Linked DNA regions of Homo sapiens. The protein of the gene in region 1 purifies or fractionates together with the protein of each later gene. This does not show direct contact. Each region holds a gene or a part of one and is shown on either strand. Other genes may lie near its edges.

Region 1 (7,284 bases):
TTTTCCTTTTTTTTTTTTTTGAGACGGAGTCTCGCTCTGTCGCCCAGGCTGGAGTGCAGTGGCGCGATCTCGGCTCACTGCCGGCTCCACCTCCCCGGTTCACGCCATTCTCCTGCCTCAGCCTCCCGAGTAGGTGGGACTACAGGTGCCCACCACCATGCCCGGCTAATCTTTTGTATTTTTAGTAGAGACAGGGTTTCACCATTTTAGCCAGTATGGTCTCTATCTCCTGACCTCGTGATCCGCCCGCCTCGGCCTCCCAAAGTGCTGGGATTACAGGCGTGAGCCACCGCGCCCGGCCAGTTCTGTATTTTCTATACTTTCCCTTATACTCTCTGACACTGGCTTTGATTTGTAACAGCATGTCGTCTGCATCCCTCAGGCCAGCCATCCTCATTTGGAGATGGAGTTAGCCCTTCACTTGACAGATGAGTAAATTGAGGCTCAGAGAGGGGGCGTGACTTGTGTGAGGTTATACAGTGAGGTGGTGGCTGAGGCAGGTTTAAAATTGAGAACATGGCTGGGGGCAGTAGTTTGTCCTAGTGCTTTGGGAGGATGAGGCGGGAGGAACACTTGAACTCGAGACCATAGTGAGAGCAACATAGTGATAGCGAGACCCCATCTCTTAAAAAAAAAAAAAAAAAAAGGCCGGGCACAGTGGCTCACACCTGTAATCCCAGCACTTTGGGAGGCCGAGGTGGGCAGATCACCTGAGGTCAGGAATTCGAGACCAGCCTGGCCAACATGGTGAAACCCTGTCCCTACTTAAAACACAAAAAATTAGTTGGGTGTGGTGGTACGCACCTGTAATCCCAGCTACTCGGGAGGCTGAGGCAGGAGAATCATTTGAACCCAGGAGGCGGATGTTGCAGTGAGCCGAGATCGTGCCACTGTACTCCAGCCTGGGGGACAAGAGCGAGACTTCATCTCAAAAAAAAAAAAAAAATCAGTTGGGCGTGGTGGTGCACATCTATAGTCCCAGCTATGTGGGAGGCTGAGACAGGAAGATTGTTTTAACCCAGGAGTTCAAAGTTACAGGGAGTTAGGATCACACAACTGCACTCCAGCCTGGGTGACAGAATGAGACACTGTCTCAAAAAAAAAAAAAGGTCCAGGCACGGTAGCTCACACCTGTAATCCCAGCACTTTGGGAGGCCGAGGTGGAGGATCACTTGAGCCCAAGAGTTTGAGACCAGCCTGGGCAACATAGGGAGGCCCTGTCTCAACAAAAAGAAGAAAATTAGCAGGGCATGGTGGTGCACGCCTGTGGTCTCAGCTACTTGGGAGGCTGAGGTGGGAGGATCTCTTGAGTCTGGGAGGTTGAGACTGCAATGAGCTATGATCACGCTGCTGCACTTTAGCCTGAGCAACAGAGCAAGATCCTGTTTCAAAAAAAAAAAAAAATATCGAGAACAGTTCACTGAAAGGTCAGGGCTCTTCAAGAGGTTGAACTGAAGCAGAGAGGAGTGAGGGGGCCATAGCCCAGGCAGGAGCAGGAGGAAGGGAAGACATGTGTGTGGCTTGCGTGGTGAGGACCAGATACAGCAGCCAGGGGTAAAAGGCCGGGAGCAGTAGCTCACTCCTATAATCCCAGCACTTTGGGAGGCCGAGGCAGGCGGATCACTTGAGGTCAGGAGCTCGAGACCAGCTTGGCCAATGTGGTGAAACCCTGTCCCTACAAACAATACAAAAAATTAGCTGGGCGTGATGGCGGGCGCCTGTAATCCCAGCTACTCCGGAGGCTGAGGCAAGAGAATCGCTTGAATCTGGGAGGTGGAGGTTGCAGCCAAGATCGCGCCACCGTACTCCAGCCTGGGCGACAGAGTGAGACTCCATTTAAAAAAAAAAAAAAAAGAATGACAGGCTGGACTGGTTGGGGTCATGCTGATGTGCCCTTGGGCAGCCTCGGGGGTGGCTGTGGTGAAGGTTGGTGGGTGCCCTCTGCTCCTGCCCTGACACTGATGGTGTGGGGTAATGGCTGCAGCTTGTGTTTCCGAGGAAGCCTCTTCCAGGGATATTTAGGAGGTAGTGTTTCTTGGGGTGGGTTTCTGTTCCTCTCAAAGGGAGAGCAGTGTCAGAGGTTGGTGTCAGGTCCAAAGCAGCAGATAATGTGGTGATGGTTGTGGTCTTTCTGCAGCCTAGTGGCTTTTTTTTTTTGAGATGGAGTCTCGCTCTGTCGCCCAGGCTGGAGTGCAGTGACACGATCTCAGTTCGCTGCAACCTCCGCCTCCTGGGTTCAGGCGATTCTCCTGCCTCAGCCTCCCGAGTAGCTGGGATTACAGGCACGCACCACCACGCCCGGCTAATTTTTGTATTTTTACTAGAGGTGGGGTGTTCATCATGTTGGCCAGGATGGTCTCGATCTCTTGACCTCGTGATCTGCCCACCTCGGCCTCCCAAAGTGCTGGGATTACGGGTGTGAGCCACTGCGCCTGGCCAGCCTAGTGGCTTTTAACTGCTCTGCCGAGACGCCTGGGGACAGTATGGGGACCTGGAGAGGCCAAGCTGGAGGGGATACTGCTGTGTCATTGCAGAGAGAGCTGTTTTACACATGGGATTTGGGTAAAGCTTGGATGAAGAAAAGGATTCTGCTGCCCTGCAGAAGTTTGGAAACCCCTGCTTAGGCGCCTGCTGTGCTGCAGTGGGAGCGCTGGATAGCAGAGCTGTCAGTGTGGCGGGCGTTCGTTTAGGCAGAAATTCATTAAGCAGTGTTTGGTTGGCACCTACTAAGTGCTGGGCCTGGCTTACAGCACTGTGAATGCACAGGGCGGGTGAGGCGAGGGCTCTGTCCTAGAGGAACTCCCAGACTCAAGCTTTTAGCTGAGTAAGCTGGACCCAGAAGGCTCCAGGAGGAAGCAGAGGAGGCGGCGAGGCCAGTGGGGTGCTGGTGTTGGGCACAGCGCCGTGAAGGACCCAACCCGGGACTCGGGCTCTCCTTGAGCTCAGCAGGAAGCCTCACGGCGGAGCAAGGAGGAAGTGGCCCTGAGCATGAGCCCTGCAGGCCCAGGCTGAGCAGCGTCTGCCTGCCCAGGAGAGCCTCACCCTGGCCTGTCTTTAGGAAAGTAGGACCCAGGCTTACTCAGTGAAACAAGTTCTTCTGGGCATCGTGGGGCAGCTCACTCACCAGGAGAAGCTCCCAGAAGAGATCTTTAGAGGATTGCCCAGAGAGGATGCTGGGGTTAGGCTTAGGGAAATACAACTGCGACAGTGGTTTTCCGCTTTGGTTACTTGGTAGAGTGCAGGTGGAGGCAGTGCCCTTCTTGAGAATCTATTAAAATTGTGGAGCCAAATGCAGTGGCTCAGGCCTGTTAGCCCAGCACCTTGGGAGGCAGAAGCGGGCAGATTGCTTGAGGCCAGGAGTTTGAGACCAGCCTGGGCAATATAGTGAGAGGCCATCTCTACAAAAAATTTTTAAAGAGTTTGCTGGGTGTGGTGGCGAACACCTGTAGTACTTGGGGATTTCAAGGTTAGAGTGAGTTATGATCGCACCACTGCCCTCCAGCCTGAGAGACAGAGTAAGGCCCTATCTCTCCAAAAAAAAAAAAAATGCTGTGGGCTTCTCCCATGAACAGACACCTAGGCTCAAATCTGCACTTTGTTTCAGGGGGTTTCATAGCTTTCGTGGCATTTTCATTAAAAATCTAACAGGAGTGAGATGTTGGAGCCCCCACAGGTCATTTTTTCCAAACTTCCTGAACCAGACGCAAGACTCCCAGCAATGTGTATTGGGAGGAGTGTTAGCACTCTGGAGGAGTCCGGCCTGGATGCAGATCTCAGCTTTACTGCTGCTCACAGAGGCACTTAGGCCGGCCACTCTGGGCCTGAGGTTCCTCATCTCAAGAGATGTGGCCAGAATTATAATCAAAGAGGCATCCAAGGGCTCACCACACACACAGCCCGATGCATGTGAATTCTTTGTGGTCAATTAACTTGGCTGGCCTCAGGGGTGTTGGAGATTGGGGACAGGATAGGAGGACATGGAACAGGTGTACTTGGCAGGCTGAAAGCACTGTGAGTTGAAGTCAAGGGGAGAGGTCCAGGCGCAGTGGCTCATGCCTGTAATCCCAGCGCTTTGGGAGGCCCAGGCGGGAGGGTTGCTTGAGGCCAGAAGTTTGAGACCAACTTGGGCAACATAGCAAGACCTCGTCTCTACAAAAGATTAAAAAAAAAAAAAAAAAAAGCCTGGGCAACGTAGCCAGACTCTGTCCCTACTAAAAATAAAAAAATTAGCTGGGCATGATGGTATGCACATGTGGTCCCAGCTACTCGGGAGGCTGAGGTCAGAGGATCACTTGAGCCTAGGAGTTGGAGGCTGTGGTGAGACATGATTGCACCATTGTACTCCAGCCTGAGTGACTGAATGAAACCCCATTTTTTTTTTTTTGAGACAGAGTTTCGCTCTTGTTGCCCAGGCTGGAGTGCAGTGGCATGATCTCAGCTCACTGCAACCTCCGCCTCCCGGGTTCAAGTGCTTCTCCTGCCTCAGTCTCCCGAGTAGCTGGGATTACAGGCATGTGCCACCACGCCCAGCTAATTTTGTATTTTTAGTAGAGACGGGGTTTCTCCATATTGGTCAGGCTGGTCTTGAACTCCCGACCTCAGGTGATCCGCCTGCCTCGGCCTCCCAAAGTGCTGGGATTACAGGCATGAGCCACCGCGCCTGGCCTGAAACCCCATTTCTTTACAAAAAAAGTGGGGGAGGCCAGATGTGTACATGTTTGTGCTCTAAGCAGCCAGGAGCTGCTGTGGCTGGTGCATGGTCTGAGCACATGTGGGCTGCTGCCCTGATGGGTATAAGGCAGACCCTCCACTCCACCAGCCCACCCGGCGGGGACATCAGCCAGAAAGATGGTAGCCATTGAGTTCTAGCTATGTGGGCCTTGGTTTCCTCACCTGCAAAATAGCCCTGATGATCTCAAGGGTCCTTTCCCGCTCTACAGCTCTTCATTTTGGGCGGCTCCCTAACTGATGTGCTACAACGTGCTGTGCACTTTTCTAGGGACCATGTTGTAGACGCACTTGGGGGCCGTTTCGTGTGGTTGACCTTCATTCTGCTTTGTCGTCTGGCATCTCCCTTTGGGCCAGCCCTCAGCCTAGGGCCTGGGCACCAGTCCCTTTCTCATCTCTCCCCCAGGGGATTTGGGAGCAGCTTGTCTTACACAAGGACGAAGGAAAAGGTCAGGGATCGAGTGGAAGAGATGTTCTTGGTGTGTGGCCGCTCAGGGAGGTGGAAAGAGCATTGAGAAGTGAGCTGGGTCCCACCGAGCTTCTTAAGAGTTGGGACTGAGGCATCCTCTCCCGGAAGAAGGGCTGGGGCTGCGGGGAGGGGACCCACCTGCCCCCCTCATCGCAGTGCTTTCTCTCTTGCAGGTGTGGGCAAGAGCAGTTTACTGTTGCGTTTTGCAGACAACACTTTCTCAGGTGAGTCCTCCCCTGCAGTGCTGCTGGGGTGTCGTTTTTGTTTGTTTGTTGACATCCCCTCCCTGGCACCAAACAGAGTTGCCTCTGCCTGATGTTGGGAACTGTCTCATTCTGGTTGCCAGAGGAGGGAAGAAGATGGAGTGGGGCTTAGGACCTTGTGGCGCTTCTGTCAGAAGCCTCTGTGGTCTGTCTAATGCACCTGCTCACGAAAACCCTTTGGCTGGCCCATCATTTTCCCACCCATGGTCCAAACAGGAAGGTTCCCATAACAGCGTCTATGGTGCCACCCGGGACACAGTCCCTGCTCCTGCCCCCTATGCCTCCCTGGCAGCCTGTGGTCAGCGTGTGTCTTTCTGATTTCTTTCTGCGCTCCACATGCAGGCCTTTGTGGTTCATCTGAGTGCGGTGGGCTTTCTGTGCTTGAAGGCACCACATGGTGCACTGACGCTGCTGTTACATCGTGCCTGACTTCTGGTTGTGTTTTCAGCGATGCTTAGCTACTTGGGATATAGGCGATATTTATTCTTTTTTTTTTTTTTTTTTTTTTTTTGAGATGGAGTCTTGCTCTGTCACCCAGGCTGGAGTGCAGTGGCGCGATTTCGGCTCACTGCAACCTCTGCCTCCTGGGTTCAAGCAATTCTCCTGTCTCAACCTCCCAAGTAGTTGGGACTATAGGCACCTGCCACCACGCCCGACTAATTTTTATATTTTTAATAGAGATGGGGTTTCACCATGTTGGTCAGGCTGGTCTCGAACGTCTGACCTCAGGTGATCCACCCACCTTGGCCTTCCAAAGTGCTGGGATTACAGGCGTGAGCCACTGCGCCCAGCTGATACTTATTCTTGTGCACGTGTTTCTGTAGAAGTGGGGTTACTGGCTTACAGGGTGTATGCACTGAGAATTTTCATAGGTACTGCCAACCTGCTTTTCAAAGAAGCTGGAGTCATTTAATCCAGTCCCACTGAAGGGTGGAAAGTGCCCCTTGTCAACCCTGGTCAGTGCTGGATCTTAGTAGCTGTCTTCATTCTTGCTGAGCTGATAGGCAAAAAGGGCTAACTTGTTTACATTTGTATTTCCCTAATCACTGGTAAGATGGAACACATTTTTGTTTGTTAAATACATCAGGTTCAGCCGGGTGCGGTGGCTCACACCTGTAATCCCAGCACTTTGGGAGGCCGAGGCGGGTGGATCATGAGGTCAGGAGTTCGAGACCAGCCTGACCAACATGGTGAAACCCCGTCTCTACTAAAAATACAAAAATTAGCTGGGCGTGGTGGTGCATACCTATAATCCTAGCGACTGGGGAGGCTGAGGCAGGAGAGTTGCTTGAATCCGGGAGAGGGAGGTTGCAGTGAGCTGAGATGGCACCACTGCACTCCAGCCTGAACGACAGAGCGAGACTCCATCTCAAAAAACAACAAAAAAAATCAGGTTCATTACAGATGCTTTGGGTGGGGTTGACATCTCTGATTATCTTGTGGAGAATTCCCTCTGACATGGCTGGGCTGCCTTTAGAAAGTGATTCCGTTGGCCAGGCGCGGTGGCTCACGCCTGTAATCCTAGCACTTTGGGAGGCCGAGGCGCGTGGATCATGAGGTCAGGAGATTGAGACCATCCTGGCCAATATGGTGAAACTCTGTCTCTACTAAAAATAAAAAAATGAGTTGGGTGTGGCGGCATGTGCCTGTAATCCCGGCTACTCAGGAGGCTGAGGCAGGAGAATCGCTTGAACCAGGGAGTTGGTTGCAGTGAGCCGAGATCTTGTCACAGCACTCCAGCCTGGCGACAGAGTGAGACTCCGTCTCAAAAAAAAAAAAAAAAAAAGAAAAAGAAAGTGATTCCATAGCTGATGTCTCTTGGTG
Region 2 (4,098 bases), on another chromosome or scaffold:
TGAATTCCCCAGCCCCTCGCGCTGCCTCGACGTTAACCCGAGCCAAGGCTGGGCCCCGGTCCCTCTAATTCCTCCTGGTGACCCCAACGCTGGTCCCCTGGCTGCCCTAGTTCCCCCGCATTAAGCCGAAAACTGGCACCCGTCTCCCTGCTTCACTTAGAATCCCATCCGAGGCTGGCCCCTGGTCCCCTCTGCCCTCTCCTTTCAAGCCAGAGGCCAGGACCCCCGCTCCCTCTGCTTCCTCCACGTTGACACCCGCCCTCCACCACACTCCCCCTGCATTGAGCACTGAGGGCTGCAGTCCTGGTGCCAGCATCGACTCACTGGGTAGCCTTAAGCTTTAAGTCAATTTGGCCCCAGCGTGCTCTGGGTGAGGAATTCCCTGGTGAAGAATGCCACCTTTTACAGTCCAGAGTGAAGCTAAGCCAGAGCCCCAACCCAGGCAGCCAAAGCCCTGCCAGGTACCCAGCTTTTGGGAGATAACCATCAAGATCCAGAGATTCAGGTTTCAACCGTTTTATTGGGAGGTTTTGTTTTCTGTGAAATACACTAGAGGGTGGGGAAGGGGACACATTCACTTTGCAAGATAAGGGTTTCCCACCACTAAAGGAAAGGCATGGGGCAGGGCACACTGGGGTTTGGGTCCGTTTTCCCACCTCCTTCTGCTTGGCTCACTTTTCTTTTCTCTCAGCAAGTACCACAGAACACAAAGACAAGAAACAAAACAGCAAATCAACCTCCAACGGGGCCATGCCCAAGCCTTCCCCACTCCCCCAGGCTGGGCAAGGGCTGGGAGGGGCTGGGGCAGCTCACTCGACAGCCCTCAGGCCACACGGGAAGGCTGCAGGCTCAGAAAGGGTGGGTCAAAGTTAATAAATTAGAATAAATTAGGGGGGAGGAATGCAACTTTGTGCTGGGAGGGCCCCTTCTCTCCAACACGCGAGAGTTGGTGGGGGGGAGGTGGGGGCATCTCCAAAGGCCACTACAGTGGGGGTAAGAGCGGTGGGGGCAGAAGTCACCTTTTCCTCCACGTCTTCCCAAACAGAGCAGAAGAATTAGGGGTGGGGGGAAGAGACACACACAAGGAGAGGAACCCTCTTTTCCTAGGATAAGGAAGGGCCAAGAAAGAGGATGCTATCCAACCCCCCATCTCCCAAGCCATCGCTAGGGTTAAGGATTTGGTCAGTGGATCAATGAGGTGGGTGATGGGAACGTGGTGGGGGAAGCAGAGGATGCTGGAGCCCTCGAGGAGAACAGACACAGGCTGGGGCAGCAGGGGCTGGGGGCGGCCACAATCACTGCTCAGCTTCTCCAAAGACGTCGTTCTGTTTGCGCTTCATGTTCTCAAAGTCAAAGGCCGTGCCAGCCATGCGTTTGTAGATGTCTTTGATGTCGTTGCAGGTTGTCTCAAAGTGTGTGGTGGCATCGTAGGAGCAGGAACAGAACACCTGGAAACAGCCAGAGCCCAGCGCCCAGGGTGAGTCAGACAGGTATCCTGGGCGGGCAGCCAGGAGCCCAGGGCTGGGACGAGCTGCTTACCTGGCTCTCACAACCATCATCAATGGGCTCATACAAGTCACTGATAGCCACAAACCTGAGGGGCAGACAGAGGGGAGGGGACAGGCCTCACAATGGGCCATGCCCTTCCTGGTCCCTAAGCCCAGCTGCTGGGCTCCCTCCCTCTCCCCCTTGGGCTCAGCCCAGTCCCTCACTTCTGGTCAATGGGCTCCAACAGCTCCAGAGCCGGCTCCACCTCCTTTTCAGGGTCCGTGGTCTCCACAGTAGTGCTGGCAATAGCTATGTACTTGCCCTGGGCCGCCACGTTGTGTGCATAGGAGATCATGCACACGTAGATGTCTGGCCACAGGAAGAGCTCCGTCAACTCAGGCCAGAGGCGCTGGCCATACGCAGAGAGGGGTTCCAGTGGCTGGACACAAGTCTGGCCCGACTGCCCCTCCCCAGCCCCGCAGAGCAGGTAGCATCCAAGCCGCCACCCTCCCAGAGGGAAAGAGTCCAGGCCACCCAAACCCTAGGGCTCCAAGTTGTGGTGGCTACAATGTGGCTCAAATTTTTTTCCAGAGAGGTAAGGCAGGGAGCTCCCACACTGATGGGGAGAAAAAGAGTAACCCCAAAGAGAACACCCTAGAGGAAGCTGTACCAGCGCCCGGCCTACCTGACTTCCTGTTGACCTGGTTCTGGGGGATGATTATTTGGCAGGAGTTGGCGTCGTTGGTGTTCTTGATGGGGTGGCTAAGGATACAGATGATGCGGATAACCTGGCCAGCCTTCCGCACACGGTCCGGGATGTAGCTGGGGTCACAGATCAGCTGCTTGCAGCGGGCCACCTGAGAAGGCACCAGAAGTCCTCGCCCCTGTCACATCCCTCCCTTAGGTAGACGTGGGGCTGCGCTCACAGCAAGGGCAGGCAGCTCTGGCAGACAAGACGTTCCTCGGAGCCATCACTACTGCCCCTCCTGAATGCATGGCCCTACCCTGCCGCTCAGATAGGTGGGCCTTGACGCACGGGCTGGGTGCCCGCCCCCCCGCCCCCCAGAGGCACTGTGATCAAGAACACTTTCTGCACCACAGACATGGCATGTGGCCTCTGAAAGAGACCTCTCACCCACAGTCATGACTCTGAAGACTTCTGGACCCCCAGTTCCCAGCTCCAAGACCCTTGGGGCTGTGCAGCAGGAGACTCGACAGCACAGAGAAAGTGACCAAGCCCCGCCTCAACCATGGGACTGCACTGCATGCACGGGAAGGGCTCACCTCTCCCTCAGACTTCACGCCCACCACCTTGCCGTTCTCCATGATGATGTCATCCACAGGTTTGTTCAGCATATATGTCCCCCCATAGATGGCACTCAATCTGTGGTGAGAGCAGCTCCGGTGAAGGCCCCTCCCAGGAGAAACGGGGACCAATTCCACTGCACCCTTCCTCCACCAAAGTGCAAAGAAGGCTGCCCCAGGCAGGCAGCAGGTAGGAGACGCCGGGATTCATCCCAGCTCTGTCACTGCCGTGAACGCTGGCCCCATCTCCGCGGGCTCTTTCCTCTCTGGAGCTTCTGCTCAGAATACACTGCCAAGGGCCAGCGGGAGGGGGCATGAGGGATCAGTGCTCCGCACCAAGACAGCCTGAGGGACCAGAATGGACTCTCTGGAGATAGGTCAGCTCCCAGCTAAGCCCTGACTCAAGGTTCTGGGACCCTGGGCCCAGTCCTGGTGCTGCCGGGAACTGAGCAAGTCACATTTGTGGAGACTCGTTTTTTCAAGTGTGGAGACTTCTGTACTTCAGTGCACTGGGGTTGTGCCCTCATCACCCAAGGATGGAGTGAAGTAAATGAAGAGCACGAATTGGAAAGGAGGAAATACTACCAAGAAAATGCTCAAGGCGGCCATCTCCACTCCTGGCCCTAGTCCTACTCAGCTATGCCAACTGAAAAAACCCATGTCCTCACCTTGCAAAACCCTGGGGCAGCTCGCCCAAGCCGTAGAGCGGGTATAAATATGGGCTCTTGCCATACCGGGCCAGGGACTCACTGTACAACTTGATGCGGTTGACGGTCTCAAGGCAGGGCTGGTCCAGGTAGCTGGGGGAATAGCAGCACCCCTGATTTACCCCCACCCAGGTACCAGGCCAGTCTTCCCACCACCCTGAATGGCCTGGGGAAGATGAGGATCAAATGCAAGGGGGAAATGGAAAGGGTGATAGGTGAGCCTGTGGCTGAGTACAAGAGACATGCGGGGCAGGGGGACAGCAGGCAGGTGTGGGAAGGGTGGGGGCGGGCCGGGCGAGGGGGCTGCCACCACCCAGCTTCCCCTCACTCATCAGTGCGGTAGAGCGCCAGGGCATGGCCAGTGAAATCGATGACATCCTGGCCCAGATCAAACTTCCGGTAGACGTCACGCATGCTGGTAGTCTGGGGGTCAACGCCCTCAAAGGTCTTGGGGTCATTCTCATCGAAGTTTGCCACAAACACCAGGAACTTGCGGAAGCGCCGTTTCTCAAACATGCCCATCAGATCTAAGGAACGCGGCGGGAGGAGGTTCTGCATCAATGCAGCACAAAACTCTCCATCCCAGCAGGGCAGGCAC

What was found.
Region 2: the proteins of RAB35 (region 1) and GDI1 purify together in Homo sapiens (affinity purification with mass spectrometry; 4 studies listed by BioGRID and IntAct, with this or other methods). This does not show direct contact.

What each region holds. Positions count from the first base shown.
Region 1 is NC_000012.12:120,106,554-120,113,837, reverse strand, and holds part of RAB35 (ras-related protein Rab-35), read left to right. Parts: intron 1-5,370; coding exon 5,371-5,421; intron 5,422-7,284. UniProt on the Homo sapiens protein: The small GTPases Rab are key regulators of intracellular membrane trafficking, from the formation of transport vesicles to their fusion with membranes.
Region 2 is NC_000023.11:154,439,870-154,443,967, reverse strand, and holds the end of GDI1 (rab GDP dissociation inhibitor alpha), read right to left. Parts: intron 4,028-4,098; coding exon 3,829-4,027; intron 3,594-3,828; coding exon 3,462-3,593; intron 2,873-3,461; coding exon 2,773-2,872; intron 2,346-2,772; coding exon 2,174-2,345; intron 1,858-2,173; coding exon 1,713-1,857; intron 1,595-1,712; coding exon 1,540-1,594; intron 1,449-1,539; coding exon 1,296-1,448; 3' UTR 501-1,295; downstream 1-500. UniProt on the Homo sapiens protein: Regulates the GDP/GTP exchange reaction of most Rab proteins by inhibiting the dissociation of GDP from them, and the subsequent binding of GTP to them. Promotes the dissociation of GDP-bound Rab proteins from the membrane and inhibits their activation.